Homo sapiens: one gene and its partner. Each later gene encodes a partner of the first gene's protein in a complex. Each region holds a gene or a part of one and is shown in the gene's direction. Other genes may lie near its edges.

Region 1 (15,841 bases):
AGATTCACATGGGAAAATTAAAAAAAAAACCCAACACTTTTATTACAGATCATTTCAAACACAGGAAAAAGTTGAGAGAAGTATATAAAACTCATATACCCATCATCCAGCTTTAAACAATTAATTCATGGGCAATCCTGTTAAATTTATATTCTCCTCTGAAGCTTGTAATCTTCAGTATAACAGGGAAAACAGTCATCAATATTTTTATCATATAAGTCCAAAGAGGCTTTTTTATTTCCTTTATTTTCATGACACTTGAAGAATAATTTAGAGAGCAAAAAGACAGCAGGAAAAAAACTTTGTTAAAAATTTTCATAAGAAATAAATACAGCAAATCCGAATTTCAATTCCCAGTTTCCCTAAAGTCATGTACACCAAAAATGGGCACGACCTGAGTGCAAATAATTGCTTACTAACTTCATGTATGAATCTACAACATATCCATCTTGTAAATACCACTTCCAGATTTCAGATACATCTCAAATTGGTTACAGCTTGTCATTATTCCTGCTTTTTTTTTTTGCACTTGCGTCATTAAAACACAATGTTTGAAGGAATTTTTAAGCCTTTCATGGCTTATTTTGACGAAAAGAGGACAACAATCTTCTTTGCTCCATAATTTGTAACATATTTTCATTTTTAGATTACAAACAATTCAAATGGTCAACCCAATAATTCTTTTTTGCATTTTTTTTTCCAAATCACCTTTGTATACACATCTGCCCTTAGCATCTGTCCACTTACAAACAGTATCAAATAAATTAGGATGCAGACCTCATAAAAGATGAAAAAAATACTTAAAGTCTTAGGAAAGTCTTACTGGAATCCTAATTCCATCATAATTATTTTATTCTTTCGACCATAGTTGAGAATTGATGAGTAATACTAAAATAATGAAATAGGAGAATGTTTTGAGAAAGAACAATATGTGACCACTAAAATCCCAAAACGTATTTCAAAATTAAAAAATGTCCAATAGACCAATGTGGTAATTTCAAGATCAAATAAACTTTATGAGAAATATAGCTCAGTTTTCTTTATTCTTTTGAAGATCCCTAAGAAAGAATAAGTCATGAAATTTCAATCCTTACAAACAGAACTGCTCGAAATAATTCAGAAATGAAAAATGGTCCAATGAGCCCTGATTGTACAGTGTACACTGACACATACAGCCAATTAAGTTACTTCGATTCAGTAGATAATTATAGGGTCTAAGATTCCGTAAAAGCAAAAAAAGAAAATCTCCAGGGTCTTCGTTTTTTTGCTTTTTTTTTTATGTCAGGTTTGGGAACTACTAGGCCAGTGGTGTTCAAAGTATATATAGCCCCCTAACTAGCAGCATGCAGAGCATCAACTCAAAACTTGTCAAAAATGAAAATTCTTGGGCTCCATCTCACACTACTGAGTCAGATATTCTGCACCATGTGAAGAGCAGCAAAATTTATCTTTCAGGTGATTCTGATGCCAGCTAACTTTTGACTTCATTAGCCTAAGAAACGTCCCTCCCAACCACCAAAGTTGGACTACAGAGTACCACACAATGTCAACTCAATTTATTGAGATTTAGGGGTCCTAATGTCTGGTTCTTATTACTGCTTTTATGTGTTAAGAAGAGTCCTGTAATAATTTCATGACTAATAATTTAGCTGCACATGGCTAATTCTTGCTGATAACCCATTCTTTTTCTGCCTTGCTATACTACCTAGACTATCTATGGTATAAAAATTATAATACATACTTTCTTGAGTTTTGGTTTAGAAGAAAATAACATTGATGGATACAGTGTAGTTGAGAATACTAGAGGAAATAACACACAAATTAATGGCTTTTGGCATATTGTAAAAGTGCAATAAATGGTGTTATTGTTAATTACTGAAACATTATTCTCTAAACTTAAATTTGTGCTTTCCCTTAAAGTTTTTCTTATTGCAAGTTACACTTATACATTGTAGAAAATAAAAATAATAAATACAACCAATCAATTCGGAAACCCAGATAAACTAACATTTTGATTATATCCTTCCAGTCCTTTTTGGCTTTCTCTCTTTTTTTTTTTTTTTTTTGGCCTTAGTCATCATTTCTTGAATAATACAAATAGGTAAGACAATTTTACAAAAATTGTGCTATAGAATAGGATATTTGTGACTTTTTAGATGAAATATTAGAGCTACCCCACCCAGCCACAGATAGCACTGTAACACTTTCTTAATAGAGTATAGGTTCAAATTATAAAGTCCACACACTGGCTAAAAAGTTCAAGTTCAGAGTTTCAATCAATTTTCATTGTAAGGATGAAACTGAGTTTTACTCAACTTGTGTCTTTTTAAGAGAATGGGCCACCTCCCACACATCCTTTCTCTTGGACTTTTTTTAACACTTCTAATGTTCTGTATCACGAAATCATGATGGCCAAAACAAAATCTACAGGTGCTTTTAAAAAAGCAAGTCCCCAAGTGATTGTTACCCATACCAAAATGAGAATTGCTGCTATAATCTGTTCTTACTGACTGCCATGCCAATCTTGGACTAGGATTAAATTGCAATTAAATTCTGCAGTGTACAAAATTTTTGTCAGTCTGTCTAGAAAAAGAAAGAGAACTCTTTCATGGTAGAGCAGTTACTGTGCTCACGTTGCTTTTTCTAAAAACCAACCTACTTTCAAACAAAGAATGAGGAAATTTGCAGTAAATTTTAAATATGAGTCACGGAAATATTAAGATAATAGCATGTGTGGGCAATAATAAGTATGCCAAGAAATAAAGAGTAATATACAAAACAATCAAACATTATTACATTTGGCTACGAGGTTCCTAATAAACAGGGCAAAATAAATAGTGAAATATAATAAAATCGTTATCATCTGATAAAAGGCTGCATGGTACTTTTCCCAAACGTAATGGATGACTTCAACACATTTTCTTATTAAATATTTCAAATTGTTTCTTCATGTGAAAACTGTCTTATTAATTGTAAAAAGGATGTAACTTCATAGGCATCTCCTCAGGGGTAAACTAATGAGGCAATTTTTCTTGATATCTAAGTTAATCAACTCAGCGTTGATTTAGATGGAAGTCAAGTTTGAGAGAACCATCCTACCTTTTCAGCTATCAATTATCTCAAGAGGAGTTTTAACCAGAGGACAGGAGTCAATTCAAAACATTCTGTAAATAGGCTAACTTGTATTTTTCTTGAAAACAGTAGAGAATTGCAGCTTAGAAAAAAAGGCAGGTGTTGCCACAATTACCTCAATCTTTTGTTTTGTTTTGAGTTGGAGTCTTGCTCTGTTGCTGAGGATGGAATGCAGTGGCGCAATCTTGGCTCACTGCAACCTCCACCTCCCCGGTTCAAGTGATTCTCCTGCCTCAGCCTCCCGAGTAGGTGGGATTACAGGCCTGTGCCACCATGCCCAGCTAATTTTGTTTTTGTATTTTTAGTAAAGGCGGGGTTTCACCATGTTGTTCAGGCTGGTCTCGAACTCCTGACCTCAAGTGATCCACCCGCCTCGGCCTCCCAAAGTGTTGGGATTATACGTGTGAGCCACCGCGCGTGGCCGATCACCTCAATCTTATTAAGAGCTTAATCATCTTGGCCCTGTTTCACTGAAACAGATTTTTAAGAATCCTCTTCTGGTAGAGACAACTATTCTCTATCCATATGTTATAATACATACATCTGCTATAACTATTCTTTAAAATTAACCCCCAGGAAACTGATTGAATTAGCCCATTAAATGATATTAACTATTTTTATTCTCCATCTGACCACTGGAGCTCATCTGACCATTGGTTCAAAATAATGAGCTTTGTTTTGGCATAGCTGTTGGGTTTTTTTCACCATAAAGATACAACACTTTCTGCTCATTCCTGACTCTTGACAATAAATTCATGCCATTAGCAAAATCTTAATGATTTTCCTATTTGCTGTAAAAATATTAAGTATCTATCATGCATACCTAAAAGCAACATGGGATTATTTAACCCTAAGTGGAAAAGGAAGCAGGACCATGTCAAAAGACCTATCACATTCCTTTTGATATTGAGCAAGCCATTCCTTCAGATAACAACTGCCCGTCATTCTACTCCTAAATGAGAAATCAGGACAACTTTTAAACAGCAAAAGGTTTAGAATTCATGCCTAATTCATAAGATTCTGTTTCCACTGCATCAAGAGGTGACAGATCAATAAAAGCTCTGAGAAGCCTAATAATCTTGGCTTATTTCTAGAGATAAAACAATGTAAAAACATACACTGATAAAATGAGTAACTAAAAAGTATGTTTTCTCATGCAAGATGTTGACAAGAACAGACAAAAGTTTCCATGCAATATCTAAGAAACCAACTTCTTTGCAATTTGAAGATAAAGGGTTCATGTTTCCCCTTCTGCTGAAATAAGGTACACTATACTTAGTGTCACCATAAGGGTGATTAGCCATAAAGTGGTAGATTAGAGAGTTTAGGAAAGAATGGGAGAGGGGAGGACATGTGTCATAGTGTCTCAACCACCTATCTACAGTGATCAAATCAAATGATTTAATTTAAAGTGATCACATCAAATGACTTGATTCATGTGATCGAATGTAGAGTGATTAAGTTTGATCTCCCCTCCCCAATTTAGAGTGATCAAAGCAAATAGGAGTAAAATATGCTGGACAGGTAAAGTTTTCAACTCTTCAGAATCATTTTGGTGGAGAGAAATATAGAATAACCTTTTTCACTGGAAACCTGTGAACTACAGCATTCTACAGACACTGCAGAAACTGAGGTCTGACTCTCCTAGTCATTTACCTGTGCAAGGATGGTCAATGCTTTAAAAAAAAAAAAAGCTGCACATAAAGATATTTGAACTTAAATTCCTCCTGAAGCCTACATAAGACATTATTTACCTTTGCTAGGATAGTGAGGAAGTTCTTTTGTTTTTAAATTCCTGAGAAGAGCTGTGGGAAGCCTCTTCCAGAAGGTAATTAGAAAATGTTAAATATTTCTCTGGACCTGAGTCACATGCAGTTGTGTTTAAAATGTATTACTAGTGTGTGTGGTACATACACATACCAGTACCCATTAAAAAAATTATTATTGTTTCAGACAGGGTCTCACTCTGTCGCCCAGGCTGGAGTGCAGTGTAACTATCACGGTTCACTGCAGCCTTGAACTTCCCAGCTTAAGTGATCCTCCCACATCAGCCTCCCAAGTAGCTGGGACTACAAACATGAGTGAAACCATGCCTGGCTAATTCTGTTTATTTTTTGTAGAGACAGGGTCTCACTATGTTGCCCAGACTGGTCTGGAACTCCTGGGCTCAAGTGATTCTACTGCCTCAGCTTCCCAAAGTGTTGGGATTACAGATGTGAGCCACTGCACCTGGCCCCATTAAAAAATTATAGCAAACATACCATATATGCATACACATACTCCACACATATAAAGGAAATCTAATAACATTTATCACCAACATATGCAAATTAAAAACAAGACTGAATGACTGCACATAGAAATACATTAAGTATTTTATCCCAGAGTTAGTTCAAACATGATCTAGAAACACAAACGTGAGCTCAAAACCAAAGCAAGCGGCAATTAAGTCCATACCTAATAGTCCAGTGTCTACATCATCTTCATTTTTCAAATTCTCAGCATGCAACTCTGCAAATACAAAGAGGGACTTAGGTAGGAAAGCAATACTATAATTTGAAAAGTAACTCAAGGGCTGTGAAGGCATTGTGGAGCTGTGGAAAGTGCTCTGGAGTCACAAAGAACTGGGTTCAAATTCTGATTCAATTTACCAGCTATGTGACCTTCAGCAAGCAAATTAATGTGTTGACCACTAAGGGAGCCAACAGCTATATACCGTACATAGGATGAGAGTACTGTTTATTCCCTAAGGTAGTGGTAAACACTAAAGGGCATACTAGGTGGAGTTCAGTTCCTTTCTCTATTCTTCCAAATAAGCACAGTTCAATGTCTTCTGCAATGGAATTCCACTTATCATGGTTTTGTGACTTTATGATACAAAGGCAATGTCTCCGAGCAAAACAGAAATAAACCACCTAGGAGACAAAACTATCAGAATTGCAAAAAAGGGCAAAAAAGTGGGGAGGGGAATGATAAATGAAACATTGGCAGCCAATCATTTAAGACTGACAGCTTGCATTTTATGCACATTCAGTTTACCATTTTATGAAGAGGTAAAACCCACATCAACTGGCCAAAGTGTCTTCTGTATGAAAATCAAGCATTGTAAGGTTTTAGATGCCATGCCATCTGTAGCCCACTAAACGCTGGGAAGCAATGAGGACAAATAAAAACTGGAGTTAAATAGATTTAATTATATTTAATGAAGTACAAAAATAACACTTCAGTGACAATGTTTTGGGTGCTTTTCATACAACAAAGTTCTTTTGTTTTTTTTTTTTTTTTTTTTTTTTCAGTAACTTGGCAAAGGTCACAAACTAGTGAGAATGGAAATTTAAACTTAACTCTGCTTCTTTCCACTATAATATACACTAGCCAACTAAATTATACAACCGTATGCCTTGCAATAAACTTCAACCGGCCAATATTTCAACTTCAGACAGAAAAACAAAATTATTAGAGGACGAGTGGACTATACTTTCTGCAACAGAACTCCGTGCACTACACCTGGATACAAACTTAAAAACTGAGAGGCTAATTATTTTACCTATAAAAGAAGAAATTTGGACTATGCGATGAAAATCTTTGTCCCTCAAGATTCTGTGTAGAGGAATTGGTGGACAGCACATCTTTATTTGTGGATGAAGGCCATTGAACATGGCCTATTTTAATTATATGCACTTTTCACTGTCTCCTTTTAATGGTGGGTGTTTCGCATTTTGTTTAATCTTCACAATATTTCATCCCCAGTGTTCAAGGACTTGAAGATATTTCTTCAAGAGTACCCATTTAATCAAACGATCCTTTTTAAAAATACGTCTCCTGATCATGGATCAGGACGCTCCACTTAGAAAAGGCAAAGGGCGGGAGAGCAAAGTAAGATGCAAATGAGGACTCTGGGTGAAAGCAGCTGCCAGCCTGAGGGCTTAGCGCGAGGGAAAGGGAGATGGGTGGAGACGAGAGCCACACCCTGGCTCAACTTTACTCTGGACAGACTTTCAAGGCGTCGGCTTCAATACCTTTAACGATCAAGTAGGCGATGGCGAGGAGGAAGGCGAGAAGAATGGCGAAGAGCAGCGAGCAGAGAATAGAGAGGACCTGGACCGGCCACCGCCGAGGCTGGGCTCTGCTGCCCGCGGCCGCGGGAAAGATACCATTGCGCTTATCGGGCAGAACGGGCGACCCGTTCCCGTCCGGCGGGAGCACCGAGCGCTTTCTGGGCTCTGACCACGCCCCAGCCGAGAACTCCGCCCGCAGGTCGCGGGCCACTTGGTCGCATCCCTCCTCCTCGTCGACTTCGCCTTCACCCCAGCTGTCCCCCTGAGTAAAGGAGGAATACGATGGCCGAGCCACAGGGCCCGGGGTGCCGGGACCGCGGCGCCGCAGAGCCGACCGCCACCCGCTCTCAGCAAACGACATGGCGCGAAACACAACGAAACCCGCGGAGAACGAGCCTCTCCCACCTGCCCCGCCCCGGGTCCGCAACAGCCAATCCGCGGCAGTGGCCGCTACCACCAGGCCTCAGAGCCCAGGGGTAAACCACGGAGAGCAAGGGTGGGCGGCGGGTTGCAAAGGAAGCCGCAGGGCCAAAGGAGAGGCGGAATGCGCTTCGACCAGAGCTCGACCCCAGGGCTGTAGCCGGAAAGGGGAGCAGGAAAGCGCGCAGGGAGAAGCGAGCGGAGGCCGAAGGCTGTCGAGTATCCACTCCCTGCGGGGCTTCGTCCCGGCCGGAGACCTCCGCCACCCCCGCGTCACCAACGGGAGCGCGCGCCCCGACAGCCCCAAAGCCTCATCTTTTCGACGCCGGGTCCTAGCGCCCGCTCGCGCCCTCGGAGACACATTCCCGAACCTATTTGTCTTCTCCCTTCTTCCCCACTACGCTCACACTCTTCTCCAGGTTCCCCCATTAAGGGCACCTCTCTACCTGGCGCTCTCGCGGTTCCTTAACTGCTCACCCCCATCTCCCTTTAGTGTGGTTCTCCCCACCCGTACTACAACTTCCCTCCCGCTACTCGACACGCCTCCTTCCCCAGGCGCGCGCTCTCCACCTGGTGCGTACGGAGATCGAACCCTCTCCTCCGAACCCCTCCTTTCGCCTTCCCCGCCTCCTCCCCTCCGCCTCGAGCACCGCGCGCGCGCATTCGGTCCCAGCCACCGCTAACACTACAGGCTGCTTACCCCCGCCCCCTCCACCCTACCCCTGGCGGCCTCAGGTTTGTGGGGCGTACGTAACTCGGGCGGGGAGGGTGAAGGTGGCAGACCCCCACTGCCCCACCCCCTACGGGGTGAGGCGGTCTAAGCTCGGGAAGCTGGGACACTGTTGTCTTCCCTTCCCCTGGGGAAGTTGGTAGAGTTTTCCCGACGGAGGACTCGGCGCAGAAACTTCCTCCGTCCTCCTCCTCCCCCCCCCCCATGCAGGCGACGCCGAGTGAGGCTGAGGCTGGGGGCGAATCGCCGCAGAGCTGCGTGTCGGCGGCGCATTCTGATTGGACAGCGGGGAAGCCCGTCAGCCTGTTGGCCCCGCTGATCCCGCCCCGTAGCGCAGGGCAGCCTTTAACCTTTAGCCCCAGTGGGCGCCAGCCACTCAGATCGCTTCTTGTTGGTATGTGTAGCGGCAGTGGCCGCCGGCGGAGCAGTCTGAGCCCGACGATGAGGCCGGGGACGGGAGCTGAGCGTGGAGGCCTCATGGTGAGTGAAATGGAGAGCCATCCTCCCTCGCAGGGTCCTGGGGACGGGGAGCGGAGATTGTCCGGCTCAAGCCTCTGCTCCGGCTCTTGGGTCTCTGCTGACGGCTTCCTGAGGAGACGGCCCTCGGTAAGGGATCAGTGGGGCAGGGGGAAGGCGGCACAATGAAAAACGGAGTGAGAAACAGGAAGCTTTCTCCGAAAGGAGAAGAAGATAAGAGTGGACGAAGGAAGAACTCGAGATGGTGGGATATGTTCTGAGGGAGAGAAGTGGAGGGTGGAAATGCACAAAGAGAAGGATGTGAGACCCTGGAAGTTCCCCGTGGGCTTGGCCTAGACAGATGCGTGGTGAAGGTGCTGGCTCTTGGGCGGGGTGAGCGTCTTGGAGCTTTAGGCCCGATTTTAGCTGGGAGGGGGAGGCAGGGGCTTGATACTGTAAGACTTTAACAGCGGCTGCCAAAATTTGTTTTCATTAGTCGTCGGGGTGGTCTGCAGGGGGAACTGTTGGGACAATTGGCAGGAGATAATTAGGTGGTTTTAATTTAAAACATAGAACAATGGACTCATCGGTAAAGAAAGTAGTTGTCTTTTTAAACTGCGTTAAAAAGGATGAATTAGTTGTTTGCATTTAGTGTCCGTGAGTGACAGAACCTCAGTCTTTGAAAATGTATTTTTGGCAGAAGGAATTTTACCTGTCTTAAAGGTTATGTTAGGAAATAAGTTTGTTAGGAGTGAATTGTGCCTGGGTAGCCATACTGTTTGTGTTTTGTAAGACCGACTCTCACCTGAGTTAATTGGATAGAGCATTTTAAAGTTTAAAATCAGTAGTGTTATAAAATAACAATAGCTGGCTATCTTTTATATCTGCATGAAATAGGAGAGTTGTTGTTTTCACCATAACAGTTTTAAAATTAGTATTCAATGTGTATCCTCCAAGCTTAGCAAGCCAATTAGTAGCTGGTTAAGTCAGTGCTTAAAAAAAAGAGAGAGAAAACCTATGATCCAGCGGTCCAGGATTCATCTTAACTTTTCCCATTTTTTTACGGAATTTGCAAGCTCGTTTTAAATACTAGCAGAATGCGTTTTGTTTGAAACAAGGTATAGACTAATCCAATGATGTTATTACACATAAGCTTAATATTATGTCGCTTCAGATAACTGATCTGTTGAAATGAGATTTTTGAGAAGCATTTAGTATTATTTGCTCATTTAAAAATGTTCACTGTTTTTCAGATGGGGCACCCTGGCATGCATTATGCCCCAATGGGAATGCACCCTATGGGTCAGAGAGCGAATATGCCTCCTGTACCTCATGGAATGATGCCGCAGATGATGCCCCCTATGGGAGGGCCACCAATGGGACAAGTAAGACTGTTTTTGTTTTATTTTGCATTTATTTATTTGTTTTTGCCTCAGGTATTCTATCAAGATTTCAGAATCTAGGTCAGTAGTTATAGCTGTTTAATGATTAGTTTATGCCCGAATAATTTCAAATAAGCCAAATGTTAAATCATGACTGTAACGGAAATTTGAATAATGGAAAAGTCTTCTGAGAAATTTAAATAATGAAAAAGTCTTCTGAGAAATTTACTGATGACCTCAAAACTAAGAATTTTTTTCTTTATTATTTAAAAGTAAAGTGTGGATCCAGGCTTTTATTTTTAATGATTATTTTTTCAAGAATGCCAATTGAAGTTGATGGTCTAAGTAAATATTATCTGATACAGCAACATAACTGATTTTGGTAGACCATGTAAATAAATAGAATCTGAAAATAGCTATTGTTTTGGTTTAGAGCGAATTTTATTCCTGAAATATCTTCCTCTTTGTGTGTTGGAGGAGGGTGAGGGAGGGTGGGGAGTTTGTGCTCTATAATTCTGATTCTTCATAGGACAGTGCCAATAGGTAGTTCATTTTCCACTTATACTATTTTTTTTTAATGCTTGTTGCTTCTACACTCCTGCTTATGAGCTGTCCCTTCCATCTCTAGCATAAATTGTAAATGGACATTTTGTAGGAGTGATTTGGATCAAAAGGTTTTAATGCTGATTCAGTGATTTCGGTAGAACTGAGTTTCTAGAGAAGCATCCAAGAAAGGTAACAGGTTCAGTTACCATGAGTAATTTTGTGCTTCATGTTAAGTTCTATAATAGATCTTTAGGTGGCTGGGTTATTTCCATTTGAGTATTTCCATAAATCATCAAAAATTTAGGCTAACAAAATATTTTGGAAGCCAATTTCATGTGATCTTTTGCTAATTAGTACTGTTTGATAATTGTTTAAGCTTTCATGGTTAAAGTTATTGGTGAAATTGCAGTGGGAAAAGGAGCTTGCTATGTGTCTGTCTCTTTTTACTTAACCTTAAGAGTAGAAGGGCTTAATGTCCAGTGATTTTCCTCTTTTTTTTTTTAATTTGGAATATTGCCCTTAATTTTGTTAAAAAACAAAACAAAACCTTTATTCAAAGGCACCAGCCCCAAAAGATTCTGCTTGCAGGAGTTCTTTAAATAAAAGAGCCTTTTATTCTGTTACTCTAGAATAACACAAATTTTAAAACTCTCTAGGTGATGGAGAAACAACTTTGATTCCTCTTCTGTTTCTTTCCATCTCTAAGGAGCAAGGAGCTCTTCTTGTTTTCTTGGTAGAGCTGCTCTAACTAGATAATGAGCTTTAAAAATATTTATTCTTTAAATGCTCTGGTTCTTATTTAAAATTAGTTTCTTTCCACAGAAAGATAAAATAAAACAATTTGCTACTGCCAGATGCTTCTCTCTTTTCTGGGGCCTTCTGTTTCCATTGGGCCAATCAAGGTAAGTTTTGCAAGGGATTGACCTGCTTACCCTTGCTGTAATGGTGCTATTGCACTACCAAAACCAAGATACCAGCTAGTCATAGTTCTAGTTAAAAAAAAAAATGCAGATTTTATTTTTTAAAAGTACTTTCATGTATCTCATTGACATAAGCTGGTCACAGTTTGCTTTATGGCCCTTTCTCTTTAGCTGTATCAGTGACCATCTTTCTAGTAAGTTTACTTGCTACTCGGTACACATCCATTCAAATAACTGATTTTTTTGGTGTGGTTTTCTTCTACTTTTTCCTAGGCTAATATATGCCACGTGCCTTTAAGTAGACCTAATTATTTAGATGTTTAGAATTCTTCTCCCTCTGAAGGCTCCTGTTAGTATAATAAATAAATGTTTTAGTAGGAGTTATGCCCTGAAAGTCCCAAAAGAATCTCCGCTGTTTTTGTCAGAATTATATAATTCCCTTTTATCCCCTTAATATTTCACTAACAAATATGGGTCCCAAATCTTGGTAAAACAAATTCTTGTTTTAGCTTTATAACAGACTGGGAGAGCATGGATAATTTGAATTCTCAAATCAGAAATCATATTTGAAACTCTGTAAACATTGCTTTAAAAATTAAAGGTGATAATAAATAGGACAATTGATCCTTTTTCCTGCATTATTTCTTCTGCCACTCTTGGAAGTACTCAGGAGGAATAAGTGGTCAGAAGATAATTGAGAAGAAGCAGGATGTCTGTCTGTATCATTCACAGTAGTGACAGTTGGGAGGGTTCTGCCATGCAATTTAAAAAAGTCAGTTCACAAATTCTTTAGACTTTGGGACTGAAGGTTATAAAAACCTTCATGTGTTGACTGGTTTGCATGAACATCTCATGCTGGGACTAGCTAAAGACTAAAATTGGTGGCAGTCTTACTTGCCAAATAATTGTGGTCTTTGGAATGTTACCAATATGACATGAAACTGTAAAACTTGTTTGTAAAATAATATGCAGACTGGGTAGCATAATGATGTACGGAAGCCAGGGTTCATAATTTCTCAAATGCATCAAGCTATTTAGCTTAAAGAAGTGGTGTGTTCAAATTTTTTTTTTCTTAATTCATGAGATGACCTAGAGTGCCATCTCATGCATTTAGGCTGACTCTTAGTAGTAATAAATATTTGATGATTATCAAATTGAGCTTAATATTCTTTCAGGTTTATTTCAGTTTTCTATCTTGTAGATTAAATTTGCCTCTTATTCTATATAACTTTATAGGAAAGTCATACTTTTAGAGTTATAGGATCTTATAGCTGAAAGGGACCTTACAGGTTGTTTAAGCTTTAAATAATATGTGATTTAAGATGCTTTGAGGATCACTGGTTAAATGTTAGTAAAGAAAGATAAAGAATTTTCCCTGCTGGATGGCAGTACTCAAAAATTTCCCATTGGGAGGCTGAGGCGGGTGCATCGCTTGAGCTCAGGAGTTGGAGACCAGCCTGGGCAACATGGTGAAACCCCATCTCTACAAAAACTATTTAAAAATAAGCTGGGTGTGGTGGTGTGCGTCTGTCGTCCCAGCTACTTAGGGGGCTGAGGCAGAAGGATTGCTTGAACCTGGGAGGTCGAGGCTGCAGTGAGTCAAGATCACGCCTTGCACTCCATCCTGGGTGACAAAGTGAGACCCTATCTCAAAAAAATAAAGATTTTCTGTAGAGATTTCTATCAATAAAATTATGTGTGAGGCTGTCTTCTTCCTCAGTGTCCATAGTAAATACTGTTTTCATGTCTTTTGTGTTTTCTACACAAAGGACATGCAGGTCCTGCCATCTTTATCACAGATGATTATGCCTTTGCCCCAGAGTCATGCTAGCTGGCTCTTTTTTTTTCCTCCCTATTTGAGTCTTTATTTTCCTCTATCAGTGAGAAGAGTAGAGTAATTGAGTTAAGGTCCCTTTCAGCTCTAACATCCTATGATTCAGTTCAGATCATTTGATAAGAGTAGATATCAGATTTTATGGGATGATATGGAAAGAACAGAAAATTCCTTTAGTAATGCCTCCCTAATTCTATTTATTCAGTGCTTTTTTTTTTTGGTCTTTGGTCAGTAAACTGATAAATGAATAATTGCTTTTTACAAATGAGTTTGATTTTCTTGCTCCTATATTGAGTAAGGCTGGCTCTAATAGATCTTATTTTATTTCAGTTCCTGCTACCACATGAGCCCAAGTCGTCACTCTCCCATGCCTAGGTTATTCAACAGTTTTTGAGTTGAGTTGGTTTTCTTGCTTCAAGGATGCCCCCCTGCCCCCACAAATTTTAGATTTCAATGTGTTATCTCCTTGCCCAAGAATCTCCAGTACTTTCAGTGCCTATAACATAGTATCTAAATTCCACAGCTTAACTTTAAAGAACCTCCCCATAGTACATGTCAAAGCAGGATTCAAGGCTGCATGTCTTTACACTCCCTAATTTGAACTTAGGCTGGTCTTTTCACGGTGTCTTGAGTGATTATATTAGTTCACAACTTCAAACTTAGGCTGTTCTTCTTACCCTCCTGCCCCCAGCTCAGTATCACCATGAAGTTTGCTTTGCTTACCTATGTTGTACTATTTCAAGTCCTGCCTTCTCCAAAAGTTTCTCAAAAATGACTTTTGCCAACATATACCTCCCCTTCAGATTATTAAAGAAAATATTTGTAATCTACCCATAACTCTTACCGTTTCACTTATTTTGGCACCTAGTTATTGACTTGTTTTATGGTTTCTTAATTTGCTTTAATTTTCCAACAAGTAATAGATTGTAAGCTCTTAGAGGGCAGGGGCTATGTTCTGTACTTTTTAAGAAGCCTATAGGTGCTGAGCACAGTTCTTGGCACATCATGGGTGCTCAGTAAAATACTTGTTGAATGAATGAAACAAATACACAGGTATTCTTTCCTGCAGTATAAGCCCATAAGTCAGTCAGTGTTAAATGTGACTGTTTCCAGTGGTTACTTGTGACTTTACGTTGTTACTACTTATTCTTGTTTTTAGTGTCTGCCTCTTTACTCTTACTTTTTCATTTGACAAAAATGGAAGATAAATAAGATGAAATAAATAATTTTTGTTTGGAGAATAAAACTAAAATATTTCCATTTGCAGTCGACCCTCTGTATCCAGAGATTCAAGCAACTGCGATGGAAAATAGTCTTTAAAAAAGCAACAACAAAAAAATACAAATTTTTAAAAATAAAGTATAATAACTTTTATAGCATTTACATTGTGTAAGGTATTATAAGTAATGTAGAGGTAATGTAGAGGAAAAAATAACAAAGTAGGATATAGGCCTTGCAGAGAAATTTAGTGTATTGGTACCTTAGACTTACCTGACTGATTTGACAAATTTATTTGTTGCTGTTCCTTCTGAATTACCCTTCCTTTTGAGTAGCTACAGGATCCATGCCATTGAATTGGGCATTAGCCAGTGACAAAAAAGAGATAGAATTTTTGTTTTTTAGGTCATCTGCTCATAATTCTTGAATCTGGGTAACTTCTGGGTACATGTGGATGACTCAAGCAAGTACTTTTAAAAAATATCTTAACTCAGACCTAATGTCTGTAAATTCTTGACTCAATGTGGTTAGATTTTTGACAAATGTTAATAGTGAGACTACAAATACGTTTATTTTCATTATCTTTAGATAGCAGTTCATTTAAATATGAGCTCATCTATTCACAAACTTAGTGTGGAAAGATCTAAGGAGGACCACATCAGTTGAGAAGAATGACCGGCATCCCCTGCTCCCCTTTTGAAATTCACAAGGCATAATATTTACTAAAGTGATGAGAAGTCTTGCAGAAGCCTTTTACAATTTTTACTTAGTATTTCTGTCTTATTTGACCATCTCCCCCATAAATCTCCCACATAAAGCATTTGTTTTGCTTTGTGTAGCACATTGTATGAAATTAGCATTTTGTGAGAAATGCTGAATTAGGGCCCTTTATTCTTTTAGTTTGCTCTTTAGGAGAAAAAGGCAACATCAAAATAAGTTAGTGTTAACACACATATGCATAAACGAAACAGCTTGTGTAGTGCAATGAATGTATTCATTAGATAGTGGATCAAAAGAGGAAACAAGTCAATAGATTAACCTTTGATTTTTAAATTAGGCTTGTTGAATATCATGATAAGACTAATAGTAGTATTAATAGATAGTAAAGATTTGAGGCTAGGCACGGTGGCTCATGCCTGTAATCT
Region 2 (16,583 bases), on another chromosome or scaffold:
TATTAAATTATCACATGCACCCTGAAAAGATATGTATATATCCTGGAGAGTTTTGCGTTAAAGATCTCCCTTTAAAAAAAAATTTTTTTTTTTTTACAGCTAGTGGTATTCCATTGTGTATGTTTCCCATAACAAATGTTAATGACCTGCAGTGAGATCCCTATTGGTGGAAATTTGAGTTGTTTTTACTACTTTTATATTACAAACAATGCTGCAATAAATATTATTAGGCTAGTGCCCCTCTGTACATATTCAAGCACTTCTAGAAGATAAGTTCCTGGAAGCAGCATTAATGAGTTAGCGGTGGCTACATATGCCGTGGTGATAGCTGCTGTCCAGTTGCCCCTCCATGGGCAGAAACCTGTGGGAGGGTCAGACCAGACTCTTTAAGTCATTCTTGAGGACAAGTAGAAGGGACGTGGGCCCCCCCAGGATGTTCAGGTAACTGGCCCATACCCGGAGTCATCCTGGTGAAAGTCAAGGGGAGCACCATGATGTGTGCTTCGGGACGGCGGAGGATCTGCCGTGTTCCCTGTGGCATGTCCAGCACCTGCTCACTACCAGTGCTCAGGAGACCCTCACGAGTAAGGGAATGGACAAGATGTGGTGAAGAGGAGTCCCTGCAATCTGCCCTTGGACTGGGTGAGCCACCCCAGCTCGCTGAGCTTTACTTTCCTTAGGTTTACCATATCCAAAGCCAACTGCAGGGCTGTCAGGAGGATCAGAAATACTGTAACAGACATAATGCAATAACATAGATGACTCTTAGAGGTAAATTAAAACAGCACTTTATGCACAGTACGATAGCATATTATAAAGCTCAAAAACAAAATGAAACCATCTATTGTTTAGCAATACATGCCCAAGATACAACCCTATTAAAAAATCATGGGAAGGAAAAGCACAAAATCTGAGATGGTCGTCCCTGAGAGGAGTGTGGGATGGGATAAGGAAGGAGCCCAGGAATTTTTAAAGGTATTGGTAATATCTTAGCTCTCAGGTTTGGTGGTAGGTTCATGGGTATTTAAGTTATAACTCAGTTCCTAACTCACATAAGGTGCCACACATCCTTTTGTATGTATCAAATATTATGTCATAAAATTTTAGTTTGGGCATGGTGGTTCATGTCTGTAATCCCAGCACTTTGGGAAACTGAGGCAGGCAGATCACTTGAACCCAGGAGTTCTAGACCAGCCTGGGCAACATGACAAAACCCTGTCTCTACAAAAGATACACAAATTAGCTGGACATGGTGGCACTCGCCTGCAGTCCCAGCTACTCTGGAGGCTAAGGTGGGAGGATTGCTTGAGCCTAGGAGTTCAAGGCTGCAGTGAGCTATGAACTTGCCACTGCACTCCAGCCTGGGTGACAGAGTGAGAACCTGTCTCAAAAAGAAAAAAAAAAAAAGGAAAAAAATTTTTAAAAAATATTTAAAAGTAATCACCGAAAAAATAGAACTCGCTTGAAAGACAAGACCAAAAACGAAGAGGACGTTTCCCTAGATGGTGAAAACAAGTGGGGCGGAATCACTGCAGCGTCCTGCACAGAACTCTGGAATTGCCACTTTGCAGTTGCTGCCTTCTAGTGTGTATTGTTGAAAGACAGTTTTATTGAGGCATAATTGGCATACAATAAGCTGCATATAAAAATGTGTACGTGATGACTTTTGACATACGTGTACACCCGTGAAGCTATTTCCACAATCAAGATAATCACCATCCCCTTCACTCTGGAAAGTTTCCCATGCCCTTGGTAAGCCCACCCTCCTGCTTCTTGCCTCCCATCCCCAAGTAACAACTGTGCTGCTTTCTGTCACTACAGGTTAATCTGCACTTTCTAGAATGTATGTAAATAGAATCACACAGTATGTACTTGTGTTTTGTCTGGCTTCTTGCTTAGCTGAGCATAAGGATTTGCGAGTCATCCCTGTTGCATGCATTAATATTTTATTCCTTTTTATTGCCAAGTAGTATTCCATTGTTTGGATGCACCAGTTTGGTTAGCTGTTCACCTGTTGATGGACATTTGGACCATGTTCCGTTGTGAACTATTACAAATAAAGCTGCTATAAACATTCATGTACCTGTCTTTGTTGGATATATTCTATCATTTCTTGTGGGTAAATAGTTTGGAGTGGAAGGGCTGACTCACAGTTAAGTGTCGTTTAATTTTTTTTTTTTTTTTTGAGACGGAGTCTCACTCTGTCACCTAGGCTGGAGTGCAGTGGCCTGATCTTGGCTCACTACAACCTCCGCCTTCCTGGGTTCAAGTGATTTTCCTGCCTCAGCCGCCTGAGTAGCTGGGATTACAGGCATGCCTGGCTAATTTTTGTATTTTGAGTAGAGATGGGGTTTTGCCATGTTGGGCAGACTGGTCTTGAACTCCTGACCTCAGGTGATCTGCCTGCCTCGGCCTCCCAAAGTGCTGGGATTACAGGTGTGAGCCACTGCGCCCGGCCGCATCTTTTTCTGTTTTTCTTTTTCTTTTGAGATTGGAGTCTTGCTCTGTTGCCCTGACTGGAGTGCAGTGATGCGATCTCGGCTCACTGCAACCTCTGCCTCACGGGTTCAGGTGATTCTCCTGCCTCAGCCTCCTGAGTAGCTAGGACTTCAGGTGTGCACCAGTACACCCGGCTAATTTTTGTCTTTTTAGTAGAGATGGGGTTTCTCCATGTTGGACAGGCTGGTTTTGAACTCCTGGTCTCAAGTGATCTGCCTGCCTTGGCCTCCAAAAGTGTTGCGATTACAGGTGTGAAATACTGTGCCCAGCCTTTTTTTGTTTTTTGAGATGGGTTCTCATTCTGTCACCCAGGCTGGAGTGCAGTGGTGTCACCTCCACTCACTGCCACCCCTGCCTCTGGGGCTCAAGCCATCCTCCCACCTCAGTCCTCATGAGTAGCTGAGACTACAGGCTCACACTACCATACCCAACTAATTTTTTATTTTTTGTAGAGACAGAGGTCTACCCATGTTGCCCAGGCTGGTCTTGAATTCCTGGCCTTGAGTGATCCCACTTCAGCCTTCTGAGTAGTTGGGATTATAGATGTGAGCCACCTCAATGTATTTTTTATTTTTTATTTTTTGAGACGGAGTCTCGCTCTGTTGCCCAGGCTGGAGTACAGTGGCGTGATCTCAGCTCACTGCAAGCTCTGCCTCCCGGGTTCACGCCATTCTCCTGCCTCAGCCTCCTGAGTAGCTGGGACTACAGGCACCTGCCACCACACTCAGCTATTTTTTTTTTTGTATTTTTAGTAGAGATGGGGTTTCACCGTGTTAGCCAGGATGGTCTCAATCTCCTGACCTCATGATCTGCCTGCCTCGGCCTCCCAAAGTGCTGGGATTACAGGTGTGAGCCACCGCACCCAGCCTTTTTTTTTTTTTTTTTTTTTTTTTTTTGAGACAGGGTCTCCCTCTGTCACTCAGGCTTCAGTGCAGTGGTGTGATCACAGCTTATTGCAGCCTCAAACTCTTTGGGGTCAAACAATCCTCCTGCCTCAGCCTCCCAAGTAGCTGGAACTACAGGCACACATCACGCTCAGCTGATTATTATTATTTTTGTTTCTGTAGAGACATTCTCCCTATGTTGCCCAGGCTGGTTTCGAACTCCTGGCCTCAAGCAATCCTCCTGCCTTGCCTTCCCAAAGTGCTGAGATTACAAGTGTGAGCCACTGCACCCAGCCCTTGGTGCATTTCTCAATGCCTATAGTTATATAATGTTGCAAAAATGGAATCATGTAATACATTTGTTAAGCGTATGAAGCATTTTTTTTTTAACTTTGGATTTTTAGGCTGGGTTTGGTGGCTCACGCCTGTAATCCCAGCACTTTGGGAGGCTGAGGCGGGCGAATCACTTGAGATCAGGAGTTTGAGACCAGCCTGGCCAACATGGTGAAACCCCGTCTCTACTAAAAATACAAAAATTAGCCAAGCATGGTGGCGCATGCCTGTAATCCGAGCTACTCTGGAGGCTGAGTCACGAGAATCGCTTGAACCCAGGAGGAGGAGGTTGCAGTGAGCCAAGATCATGCCACTGCACTCTGGTCTGGGTGACAGAGCAAGACTCCATCTCATAAGAAAAAAAAAAAAAAAAGTTGGATGTTTAAGATGTGTTGGGCAACTTCCAGCCGCCCATTTCACTCTGCAATAGAGCATGTGCTGTGTATCCTTCTGTAGCCTTTGTTATGCTCAGATAATCATATGCAAACATGCACACATCTGTATGGGGTTTGTGTTACAAAAACAAAGCCATGTCATATGTATTTCTTTGTTAACACAGAACAGTAGTTACTTTAGGTTGGTTGGTATGAATTAACAGCTTTTCAAAGCTGCCTAATATTCTAGGTTATGGGTTTTCCAATTCAGTCGTTCATATATTGATGGAAATTCACTCTGTTTGCCCATTTTTACCACTACAAACAATGCTGCAGTAAATGCAGAAGACTTTGAAAACATTATATAATCACATGGCTTGTTTGGGGGCAGATTCCCAGGAGTGGGATATTGGATCGAAAGGGTTTATGTTTTCTTTCTTTTGAGACAGAGTCTCACTCTGTCGCCCAATCACAGCTCACTTCTGCCTTTACCTCCTGGGCTCAAGGGATCCTCCCACCTCAGCTTCACAAGTAGCTGTGAGTACAGGTGCATATTTTTTTATTTTTTGAAAGGGGGAACAATTTTAATAGACAACAGAATGCTTTCTAAAAGATTAACGATAGTAGGTGTTAGCACATTTATGTTCTGCTATTTTCATTTATTTTGAGATTCCTCATTATCACCTTAATTTGTATTTCCCTTATAGGCAGTGTCTAAATACTGGTAAATAAATTAGCTAGTCTCAGTCGCACAAACTCAGCACAGTCTAAGGTGGTACTGCTATAACAGAATCCCTGAGACTGGGTAATTTATTTATTTGAGACAGGGTCTTGCTCTGTTGCTCAGGCTGGATTGCAGTGGCGTGATCATAGCTCATTGCAGCCTTGATCTCCTGGGCTCAAGTAATCCTCCTGCTTCAGCCTCTTGTGTAGCTGGGACTATAGACATGGACCACCATGACCAGCATTTTTTTTTTATTTTTTATTTTTTTAGTAGATGTTGCCCAGGCTGGTCACAAACTTCTGAGCTCAAGAGATCCTCCCACCTCAGACTCTCAAAGTGCTGGGATTACAGGCATTAGCCACCACACCCAGTCTGGGTAATTTATAAAGAATAGAGATTTCTGGCTGGGCACGGTGGCTCACGCCTATAATCCCAGCAGTTTGGGAGGCCAAGGTGGGTGGATCACCTGAGGTAAGGAGTTCGAGACCAGCCTGGCCAACATGGTGAAACCCTGTCTCTATTAAAAATACAAAAAATTAGCCAGGCATAGTGGCGGCACCTGTAATCCCAACTACTTGGGAGGCTGAGGCAGGAGATTCATGTTGGCCAGGCTGGTCTCGAACTCCTGACCTCAGGTGATCCACCCACCTCGGCCTCCCAAAGTGTTGGAGCCACCGCGCCTGGATGGAGATTAAGTTTCTAACACATGAGCTTTGGGGGACACATTCAAACCTGTCCACCTAAAGTAATCAAAAGGGTCAGAATCTAATTTCAATAGTTTATTCAAGCACAAAACATGAGGGTGGACTACCTGGAAACACCGACTCCAAATGAATGGAGTCAGTGTTTCGAAGTAGAGAAGTTAAGGTTTCATTTACACACACAAAGGCAGAGGAGTTTTAGGATTACATTCTTCATATATGGTCAGTGCGTACTTACAGTAATTTGGTTATAGGCCGAGTGCAGTGGTCCACTCCTGTAATCCCAGCACTTTGGGAGGCCGAGGCGGGCAGATCACCTGAGGTCAGGAGTTCAAGACCAGCCTGGCCAACATGGTGAAATTCCATCTTTACAAAAATGTAACAATTAGCTGGGCATGATGGCAGGTGGCTGTAATCCCGGCTACTCAGGAGGCTGAGGTGGGAGAATCGCTTGAATCTGGGAGGCAGAGGGTGCAGTGAGCCGAGATTGTGCCATTGCACTCCAGCCTGGGCGACAGAGCCAGACTCTGTCTCAAATTGAAATAATAATAATAAATAATTTGGTTGTAAGCAGTGTTTCTTTTTGGGAGGCATACATTTAACATTTTTTACAGAGGGTGTAATAGTCATGGGTTTGCTGTCATCTGGTCTAAGTAAAGCAGGACAACAAAAGGGAAGTTATCTATAAGAAGGGTCATTAAGAAGGCAGCAGGTTTTTGTCCCATGTTTAATTCTCTCCAATAATTGTACAGAACAAGAAAAACAAGCAGGTCTAATTTATTATCTCAGAAAAAATTATAACCATACATGGCTGAGATCACAGTCACCTCTCTCTCCAGGTTTCAAGTGTTGTGGGGGTTCCAACATCTTTTCTATTTATTTTAAAAAACCACAGCAGAGGGGTTGTGCACCCTTTCATATTTCTTGGCTATTTGGATTTGTTCTTCTGAGACATGTCCATTCCTATTTTTTGCTCATTTTCTATTGTTTTTGCCTTTTTTCTAATTAGTTTTTAAGATGTATTTGTATATTACAGGTATTGGCTCTTTATCATGTATGGCAAATATTTTTTCCTCATCTATCATTGTCTCTTGACTTTTATCAGTGTTAATTTTCGGGGTAATCAAGTATATCTTTTTACAGTTTGAGGTTCCTGTCTTTGCAGTCTCTCAACCCCTAGAATACCCTTATAGTCTCCTAAATTATATTCTAAATGTTTTGTTGTTTAAATTTAAGATTCTACGCCATTTATCAACGAAATCATCTTTTCCTGATTGAAATAAAATACTACATTTGTGGTATTTCCGGATTCTGTTGCACTAATGTGTCTTTCCTACCAACAATATCATATTGTTTTATTATTGTGGTTTTTTGTTTTTGAGACGGAGTCTCATGCTGTTGCCCAGGCTGGAGTACAGTGGTGCGATCTCAGCTCACTACACCTCCGCCTCCTGGGTTCAAGCAATTCTCCTGCCTCAGCCTCCTGAGAAGCTGGGATTATAGGCGTCTGCCACCACGCTCGGCTAATTTTTGTACTTTTAGTAGAGACGGGGGTTTCACCGTGTTGGTCAGGTTGGTCTCGAACTCCTGACCTCAGGTGATCCCCCCGCCTTGGCCTCCCAGTGCCTTGGCACTGGCCTATTGTGTTTTATATACTATGTTTGTCATCTGGAAAGGCAAGCTCCTGCTCCGTCTTGTAAAGTTTTCCCAGTACTGTAGTAGTTATTTTTATTTTTATTTTTGACAGTCTCGCTCTGTCACCCAGGCTGAAGTGCAGTGGCCCCATCTCGGCTCACTGCAACCTCCGCCTCCCGGGTTCAAGCGATTCTCTTGCCTCATCCTCCTGGGAAGCTGGGATTGCAGGAGTGCACCACTACACCCAACTAATTTTTGTATTTTTCGTAGAGACGGGGTTTCGCCATGTTGGTCAGGCTGGTCTCGACCTTCTGACCTTGTGATTCGCCCGCCTCGGCCTGTCAAAGTGCTGGGATTACAGGCGTGAGCCACCGCGCCCGGCCGTAGTTATTGTTTTATACGATTTTAAGATCATTTAATTAAATCCTCTGAACTCCGTGGAGATTCCAATAGAAGTGTGTATTTGTAATTTTTGAACTGACAACCTTCTGTTACCTTTCATCTAATATGTTGTTGCATCAGTTCAAATACTGTTTTAAATCCTTCGATAAGTCGTCTCTATTCGTAGCTTTTTGGGTCACTTTTTTTTTTTTTTTTTTTTTCCAAAAAAACAGGAAGTCTTTTTACCTGCAGCGTCAACTGAGCCGGTTTTCCGGCGCGCGCCAGCCCCTCCCCTGCTCCCGCCCCAAGGTTCTGCGTTACCATGGGAACAAAGGTTGACGTCACTTAGGGCTTCCTTGCTGGACCCAAGGGTCGATGGTGAAGGGAGACGGGTGGAGAGGCGGTTTTGCTCCATCTACGCATGCGCACTTCCTGCTCCAGGACTCCCCCGCCGTAAATCTCGTTCCGGCTGGGCCTTTTCCGCCGCGACTCTCGCTTAATCCCGGAGAAACTGCCCCCTGGGGGAGGGGAGTAGAAAAAGGCTGGAACCAGCGACAGCCAATCCCGCGACACTACAACGCAGGCGAGATTGATTGAGTCCACCACCGCAGCCAATGAGAGAGCTCGCCGTCGCTCCGTCATAGAGTTCGCCCCACCCCATCCCCTCCTTTCTGGACTCGGAGCTCAGTTCACGCAGTAACAAATGAAGTGCGCGCTGCGACACCTCCCAGCCCACCGAACTCCGCCGCCATTTCCTCGCTTGGCCTAACGGTTCGGCCAATCCCAGCGCGCATCAAGAAGGACTGAGGCTCCGCCAATCGGAGGCCGCCGATTTCGACCCTTCGCCTCGGCCCGGCCCAATCCAGGCCCCGGCCCCGCCGCCCCCGGCCCGCCCCCGCGGTGCCCTCTCTCCTCCCTCTTTGTGCGTCTCGCGCCGCCGCCGCCCGCCGCGTGAGAGGACGGGCTCCGCGCGCTCCGGCAGCGCATTCGGGTCCCCTCCCCCCGGGAGGCTTGCGAAGGAGAAGCCGCCGCAGAGGAAAAGCAGGTGCCGGTGCCTGTCCCCGGGGGCGCCATGGCGACCGGAGCGAACGCCACGCCGTTGGGTAAGCTGGGCCCCCCCGGGCTGCCCCCGCTCCCCGGGCCCAAAGGAGGCTTCGAGCCGGGCCCTCCGCCTGCACCCGGGCCTGGGGCGGGGCTGCTGGCTCCCGGGCCGCCGCCGCCCCCGCCCGTGGGCTCGATGGGGGCCCTGACCGCGGCCTTCCCCTTCGCGGCGCTGCCTCCGCCGCCTCCGCCGCCGCCCCCTCCGCCTCCCCAGCAGCCGCCGCCGCCTCCACCGCCACCGTCCCCCGGCGCCTCGTACCCGCCGCCGCAGCCGCCCCCTCCGCCGCCGCTCTACCAGCGCGTGTCGCCGCCGCAGCCGCCGCCACCCCAGCCGCCGCGTAAGGACCAGCAGCCGGGCCCGGCCGGCGGCGGAGGAGGTGAGTCGGGCCGAGAGAGCGCGAGAGGCGTCGCGCGGACGGGCCCGGCCGCCTGAGGGGCGCGCGGCGGCGGCGACGGCGGCTGCACGCGGCAGGGGCGCGCGTGCGCGCACGGGGAGGCCCGGGCGGAGGCGCCCCTGGGCGCGCGCGGCCTGGTTCTAGGGCCTCGAGTGCGCACGCGCGCTGTGGGGGGAGGGCTGGGCGGGCGGGAGGCGCTCTGTGCGCAGACGCAGTGAGGTGGCCGGGCTGTGCGGCGCAACTGTATAGACTGGGGGCCCACTATTGCTGTCCAGTCCGCTGGTGTCGGGAACAGGGGTGGCGGGTGTTCAGCGCTGGACGGGGTGCTAGCTGTGAATGCCAGCAGGGCGTGAAAGCCTCACCTGATGACGTGCAGCGACTCCCTTCTGGTCTTGAGGAACCAGAATGGGAACCGTACCAAGGATAGCTCCTCTGCTTCTACAGCAAGGCAGGGTTTTCATCCGGGAGAGGTTGGCATGCTTCAGATGATGGTTGGGTCTGATCTTTCTTGGTCTCTTTTGGGGAGAGAATTTTAGTTTGTTTTTTTTTTTAAATCTGTTCAGTATGTTTAGATCTCAGTCTGATCGGCTGCCCTGTCGCTTTGTTTTAAAAAGCTTTTCCCTCTGATCCTGTACCCCTTGGGAAATAGAAGGACTCTTTTGTGGCAAATGTAGGGAGTTTCTGCCTATGTACGGGGAAAGGAGAACTTGGCTGCTATTGTATAGGTTGTTGAATTTTTGATAGATCCTTTTAAGAGTTCAGACCCTCAGTGTCCAACTGGCCAGGAAAACTGAATGCTGATCTTGGCTAAACTTATGAAGACAAAGGTGATCTTGTTGAAGAATTGGGCTTTTCCCACTTGGTAGGGTGTAACTAGGTTTAGTTGTGGTCCGGCCTCTCGTACAAAAGTGACTGGTGAGGGGAGTGGAGGTGGGTGGAGCCCCCAGTCCCATCAGGACTGCTTTACAAATCTATGATTCTTCAGTGTATTTTTGTCTCCCCTGGGGATTTCAGAGCACTCATGGTTGATGTAGTATCTATCTAACACTCTCTGCAGCCATATGCATTAAGATTACCACGTTTATATATCTGACAGTTTTTCTAGACAAAAGAAGGTGAAATGTTAACTTGCCTGACCAAGGACCACATACCCTTGTAGTGGCCATAAGCTTTAAATCTCTGATCTCTGAGGTTTGTTTTCTGTTTTTTTAATGTTTAAGTTTTAGGTTAAGCTCTCAGCTTCACAGTCTGCTGAGTTTCTGTGTAGTACCTTAAATACCCTTAGCTGTCTGTTGATAACTACTTGTATTTACATCGGATGGATTTTGTCTCTGCCTTTTAGACTTCCCAAGTAAGAAGCGGAAGAGGAGCCGCTGGAACCAAGACACAATGGAACAGAAGACAGTGATTCCAGGAATGCCTACAGTTATTCCCCCTGGACTTACTCGAGAACAAGAAAGAGCTTATATAGGTAAATATACGTTCTGCATCCAAATGCACTTTGAGATTGTTACGATTTATTCTGAGCAAGATCTGCATTTTTTGAAAGTTTGAGATTGTAGTTATCTTTTTTGAGATGAGATACTTTCACGACTTTGGTATCATCTGTCAGTTTTTGCCCAGTGAGTTCTGCATTTGCAGCTCCTTGTTTTGGTCTGTTCGTAACTGCAGTGTTCTCCATGAGTATCAGGAAGGTAGGGTTTCACTTAGGAGTAAGAACAGTCCCCAGTCCAGCAGCCACCCTTTTCAGCTGCTGTTCATTGCCAGTTGATGAGGTGAGTGTCATCTGCCTCTCTGGACAGGCCCCAGTGGAGAACACCGCAGGTACTGTAAACCAAGTACTTTTCACAGCGTGGCCTTTCACCATAATTTTATATTTCTCCCCCTAAAATGTGGTCTTTTACTTTTTATAGGTACTTTCTGAAAAAAAAAAAATGACAAAAAGTGGTTCTGAAAGTGTGTTTACAATTTACCCCTTTTTATTTTCTTGAATTTAAGAGTTTAACCTTCCCTTCAACATCTTTTCTGGTTTGGTCTATGGAGAGCTGTCTTAAAATGAAGGCTCTTGTATTTACTTTTAAAGAACTCTGCTGGGAAAGGGATATTGCATGGATATGGAATGAAGTGCTAGGATAAAAAGGTTTTATTTGCTGGGAGGTTTTGAGAATTAATGACTATCCACAGTGGAATTGAAATTAACCTCAAAATTGCTTTTTTGGAAAAAAAAGTTTTTAATGCAAGTTTTATCTTTATATACCTGTGCAGCTGTCTCAAAAAAGTTCACTTTATAAACATTTCCTACTAACCAAATAAACATCCCCTTTGGAGGAAATTCGGGCAAAGACCTCCTAAACCTACGAGGCTGTGGCCTTCACAACCAAAAAGCTTCAAGGCCAGCATGTTACTACTTTTGAGGGTCTTAATTTCCTGTTTTTTAGACTGCTGAGAATTTTGAGGCGTTGGAATTGTCTGTCTCCTTTCACAGTACTACTAATACTTGTTCTTTCCCCTACTGTTCCTGTCTACTCCCACCCATTCCATTGTGTCTCATATTAGACTAGTCTGGGTCTTTACATCCTTGTGAAATGCCCCTAGTGGAGTGATATCCCAAGAACACAAGCATACTTAGAAGATGGGAAGAGCACAAATTCTTTATATCTCCATTTCTGTTTTTGTGGAGGGCTAGTTAGTTCACTGGGCCCTAAGGACTATTTATAGCTATAATCAAAATAGAATCAAAGGAGAGGTGTAGTTCTCCACAGAAGAGAATGACCCTTTTTATTTAGATCAGGCCCCACATCTCCATAGTCAGCTAGGAAGACTCACCTTCTCCCCTCAGTGAAGGTGACTTTCACCTCGAGTTGTTGAGCTTAATACTCAACTGCAAAGTCAGAACTTTTTAGGCATAAAGGAGCTTGGGGAACCATGTGTCTTACTACTTTTCTGTCTCCCACGGTACATACTGCTTTGTCCAGGATGCCCTCAATATCTTTTTTTTTTTTTTTTTGAGAGACTGAGTCTTGCTGTGTCGCCAGGCTGGAGTGTAGTGGTGCGATCTCGGCTCACTGCAACCTGCGTCTCCCGGGTTCAAGTGATTCTCCCACCTCAGCCTCCCAAGTAGCTGGGACTACAGGCGCACGCCACCATGCCCAGCTAATTTTTTTTGTAGTTTTAGTAGAGACGGGGTTTCACCATGTTGGCCAGGATGGTCTCGATCTCTTGTCCTCATGATCTGCCTGCCTTGGCCTCCCAAAGTACTGGGATTACAGGTGTGAGCCACTGTGCCCGGCCAGTATTTTCTTTCGATAATAATGGGTTTTCATTTCTTCAGGGTTTTAGTGTGTGGGTGTGGTATAGCCCTGTGGATGTATTTAAAGTTAGAAGGAATCTTTGGTTAGACACGCATTAATCCTATCTTGGAGCCAGCTCAGTTTTAACCCAACCTAGTAACATTTGCCCTTATTGGAGATGCCTGCTGAAAATTCTCAGATGCTGCGAAGGTAAGGAACAGGTGGTTATTCCGCATGTTGAAGAAAGCTGCTCTGGCTCTGCAGTTCCCATTATCTTGGAAAATCAGCTGTGTAACATTTCCCTGGCGTCACTGGCAACTTTTGTGAAACCCTCATCTCTCTTTTTCATGCACAGCCTCATTGGTCAAGGCCCGAGGGCCAAGTACATTGTCCTTGAACACACATTCCATTCTTCTACACGCCTGCTCCCCATATGAACAGTGAGCCTGAAAACAAATTCTTAGCACTTTATGGTTACTGGTTTATTAAGATATGTGGTTTGTCATTTAATATTTGAATAAATATTTCATATAATTGAATAAGAGCTGCAGGTATTGGGAGACCCTTACTAGTACAGGTCTGGTTGTACAGAAAGAGTATGTACAAATTTCTATAAGGTGTTGAATTTTGTTATTAAATGTCTTATTTAAGGAATTTTAAATGTATTAATGAAAATGATCTTTGCTCAATTGGTATTTTTCCTTGTCCCATGTTAATTGGGTCTCATTTTGGGCTATGTTTAACATTTAATGAAGAAAAAACTCAATTCTTGCCCTCAAGTAATTTGATGGGAGTCGGGTATTGGTGACGTAACATGGTTTATGGTTCTGGGTACCAATGGTAAGCAAGCCTTGGTGGGGAGGAAGAGGTGAAACACCTCCTAATAATTGCTTGGATGTTAGCCTTAGTGAACAGTCTTTATTGCTAACCCCTCTTCCAACAAACTGTTTGCTTCCTTAAGTGATAACCATTTTGAAGTGAAAAAAACCTATAGATGTAAAAGGACTCCTGCCGATAGGTGGTTGGGGGTTTTTGCTTCAATGTGTTCACTGATCAGTCGTCCCTTTCAAAGTCTCCGAGTTCTTCATGCTTGTTGTTGAGATTTGAGATGTTTATTGGTAACATTGTCTTTTTTCCATCCTTTTTTTTCTTTCCTAACCTGGTTTCTTCCAGTGCAACTGCAGATAGAAGACCTGACTCGTAAACTGCGCACAGGAGACCTGGGCATCCCCCCTAACCCTGAGGACAGGTTGGGAAACAGTTTTAACCAGCTGACAGTAACGCTTTTACCTTTTTCTCAATACGTTTTACTGGTGGCAACATATTGTGTCAGTTCAATAAAATCATAGTATGACGACTGTACCCTGACCACTTTGGGGATTAAGGTTTAATTAGAAATATGTATGGTCAGTCAACAGTTAGAAAATTGGAATAAAACTTAAAAATGTTGGGAGAATAAAAAGTTACAGGAAAATGGACAACTGGTTTCCAATTGGTAAGCATGTAGATCTTAACCTGATTTACCCACCCTTAGGGGACAGTGAGGTGGCCCGTTAACCTGCCTTTTCAGTACCTGCTTTGGCCAAAAGCCCAGGGCATAGAGTTTTTCTCACAGGTACACAGTGCAGGGACTAAAAATATTTTTGAGCATCACTGAACTTGAGCAAGCCAGGAGCTCTGGTCAGCTCATTGCTGCAGTCTTCCTGCTCATGGTTTTGAGATGGTTTCAAAATCAGATGAGATTTCTAACCAACTTCTTTCACTGCCAGTTAACTTTCAGCCTTGGCCATTGCCTTGGGGGTGTTGGGAGGGGCCAGAATATTCTCACCTATTTTGGGAAGGCATGCAACCAACCCTAAATTACTTTTTTTTTTTCCTTAAAGGGAGCGTGGGCCTCAAACAGCTGTGGTCATGTCATTTCAGTTTGCAGTTTCTCTCACCTCAGAAAAATAAATTGTGTGGGGGAGATGAACTTTTTTAAACTGGAATTTTATTAGCTGATTGAACAGCTAAAATTGGTCATTTAATTAGAAGGGCAGTAAGTCTCTCCCTCTCACTGAATTTTCTCTTAGTACATACAGAATAGTTGAAAAGACTTTGCTTTAAAAAGTAGTGTTTTTGGTTTTTGTTACCCAGTTAATAGCTTATTAAATCAGGAAGATGATGTAATGGCTTTAGAAGTCACTCACTCATGCATCTTTCTTCCGCCCTTTGCCAGGAAACATTAACTTCCTTGTTTCTCCATATTGACTCTTTAATTTGACTTACTACATTTGCTATATTTTACCTATAGATAGATTTTGGTTGTAGGGTTGTGTTGTGTTTCGTTTCTTTTTGAAGATTTTTTTTTTTTTTAAATTTACATTGTAGGTCATAGACCACAACTGTTTAGTGCCTTTTTGGCCTTTTTCCCTTTAATAATATGTCTACAGGTCACCAGTCAATTCCTCCAAAGGTTGAATTTTTAACAAACCTTCTTTGCTTCCTGGATAACTGGGATTAGAATTTAGTTGATCTAGCCGATGCCTGTTGGAGGTGAAGAAGTCGGGCCAGTCTAACCTCTAGAATACTAGCTTTTGCCTTTCACTTCTGCAATTTGGGAGGAGGTTAAACTGTTGTGAGGCCTTCACATGGCCAATTGGGTGCTGGTAAGACTTGTTTTTGTAACTAGCTAAGAATGCTTAATTCTAGACAGCTGTGGGGTGGGAATTAGAAATGTCAAGCATGTTAGAAATAAAACCAGAGCAGGGTTTTTCCTCCCTTCTATTCAGTTTTGAAAGAGGCCCTAATGCCTGATTGGTTTTGCTTTTGAGCCCAGGTTGGAGGGAAATGCATGGGTTTTCTTAATTAAGATAATTTCTTAAAAAGGTGTTATATCACTTAAGCCACTTTATTGTTATTTTGATGCTGCTTAACTTGCACAGTAAAAACATGTTTAAAACTTTTCTTGTAGACTTAAATGTATAAGATGGTAGTCTAATGAGCTGGGGTATGTTTGCTTTTGTTCACTCTTAATGGATTGTGCTAACAGTTTATACAAATGCTAGAAACGGAGGTGTCATTTAGCCGTCATTAGCCATGAACAAACCTGACCTTTTATTCCATCGTGTGTGTAACGTGGTGTGACATGGTTCCCTTTAGGCTGAAGACAGTGGGAGCAGCCGAGTTCAGTCCTTGCTCTCCAACTAGGCAAGGTTCTCTCAACTAAACCAAGGGTATAGGAGTCTTGATTACTTTCAGTATGTTTTTTTAATAACCTGATCCACATGGTCTCTTCCCTTCTTGCAGCTGCTACTAAATTTTCATTCAGAATATCAAGCTATGGTCCTTTTTGTAATCTTAACTCAAAATTCTAGGAGTGTAACCTCTCTTTTTTATTACCGCAAAATCCAGCTGTGGTAAACTGACCATTTTATCATTACATTTTTTTACTTGTAGCAACAGCATTTTACTCCTTAAAAAAATGAGAGAGAGAAAATCTGCTTTCTGGACTTGTAAACTCTGGTGGAGAATCATAGGTTTTCCCCTTGCTGTTTGCAGGTTCAGACCCTAGACAAGTATGACCAAATCTGCATTTGCAGCCTCTCGCAGAAGCTGCTTTAGCACTTTAACGTTTTTCTCTACCCAGACTCCCCAACCTCGAACAGCCAGAAAACAGGTTGTCTCCTGGGCCTTGGACACAGCCAGCCAGGCCATTGAAGGAAAAGCAAAGACGAAGCGAACCATCTCTCTCCATTGTGGGGGCCAAGTAGCTGCAGTAGCCTTCAGTCCCAGTTGCATTGGGTTAAAGAGCTCATACATACTATGTGTTAGGGGTACAGAAGCTTTTCCTCATAGGGCATGAGCTCTCCAAGAGTTAACCTTTTGCCTAAACTTGGGGTTTCTGTGGTTCATAAAGTTGGGATATGTATTTTTTTTCAAATGGAAGAAAATCCGTATTTGGCAAGAAGACTCCAGGGGATGATACTGTCCTTGCCACTTACAGTCCAAAGATTTTCCCCAAAGAATAGACATTTTTTCCTCTCATCACTTCTAGATGCAAAATCTTTTATTTTTTTCCTTTCTCACACACACCCCAGACCCCTAACGTTAAGCCAGCTTCCATCTCCCCATTCCACACGATCTTGAGTAGCACACGTTATGGTCGGTTCCTCCGAAGAGTGTTGTATTAGGGTCTGAGAGGCAGAGGGGCTGGGAAAGACTTGTTATAGTCCGTGTGGGAATGAGAGAAGTCGGTGCAGAATAGTAAACGGGAGTCTGTTTCCC

Evidence for each region.
Region 2: the proteins of PRPF40A (region 1) and SF1 are in contact, whole or in part, in an NMR structure (PDB 8PXX), measured with the Homo sapiens proteins. Residues at the interface, in NP_001352526.1 of Homo sapiens: His164, Ser166, Tyr172, Tyr174, Ser181, Thr182, Trp183, Tyr213, Tyr215, Ser222, Arg223, Trp224; in NP_004621.2 of Homo sapiens: Pro575, Pro576, Leu577, Pro578, Pro579, Gly580, Ala581, Pro582, Pro586, Pro587, Pro588, Pro589, Pro590.

The regions. Positions count from the first base shown.
Region 1 is NC_000002.12:152,710,335-152,726,175, reverse strand, and holds the start of PRPF40A (pre-mRNA-processing factor 40 homolog A), read left to right. Parts: upstream 1-8,736; coding exon 8,737-8,946; intron 8,947-10,049; coding exon 10,050-10,181; intron 10,182-11,546; exon of another isoform or gene 11,547-11,578; coding exon of another isoform or gene 11,579-11,626; intron 11,627-13,808; exon of another isoform or gene 13,809-13,872; intron 13,873-15,841. Other genes in the region: ARL6IP6 (ADP-ribosylation factor-like protein 6-interacting protein 6), read right to left, coding at 5,590-5,643, 7,152-7,551.
Region 2 is NC_000011.10:64,770,413-64,786,995, reverse strand, and holds the start of SF1 (splicing factor 1), read left to right. Parts: upstream 1-8,453; 5' UTR 8,454-8,603; coding exon 8,604-8,634; coding exon of another isoform or gene 8,635-9,009; intron 9,010-9,234; exon of another isoform or gene 9,235-9,497; intron 9,498-10,369; coding exon 10,370-10,498; intron 10,499-13,490; coding exon 13,491-13,566; intron 13,567-16,583. UniProt on the Homo sapiens protein: Necessary for the ATP-dependent first step of spliceosome assembly. Binds to the intron branch point sequence (BPS) 5'-UACUAAC-3' of the pre-mRNA. May act as transcription repressor.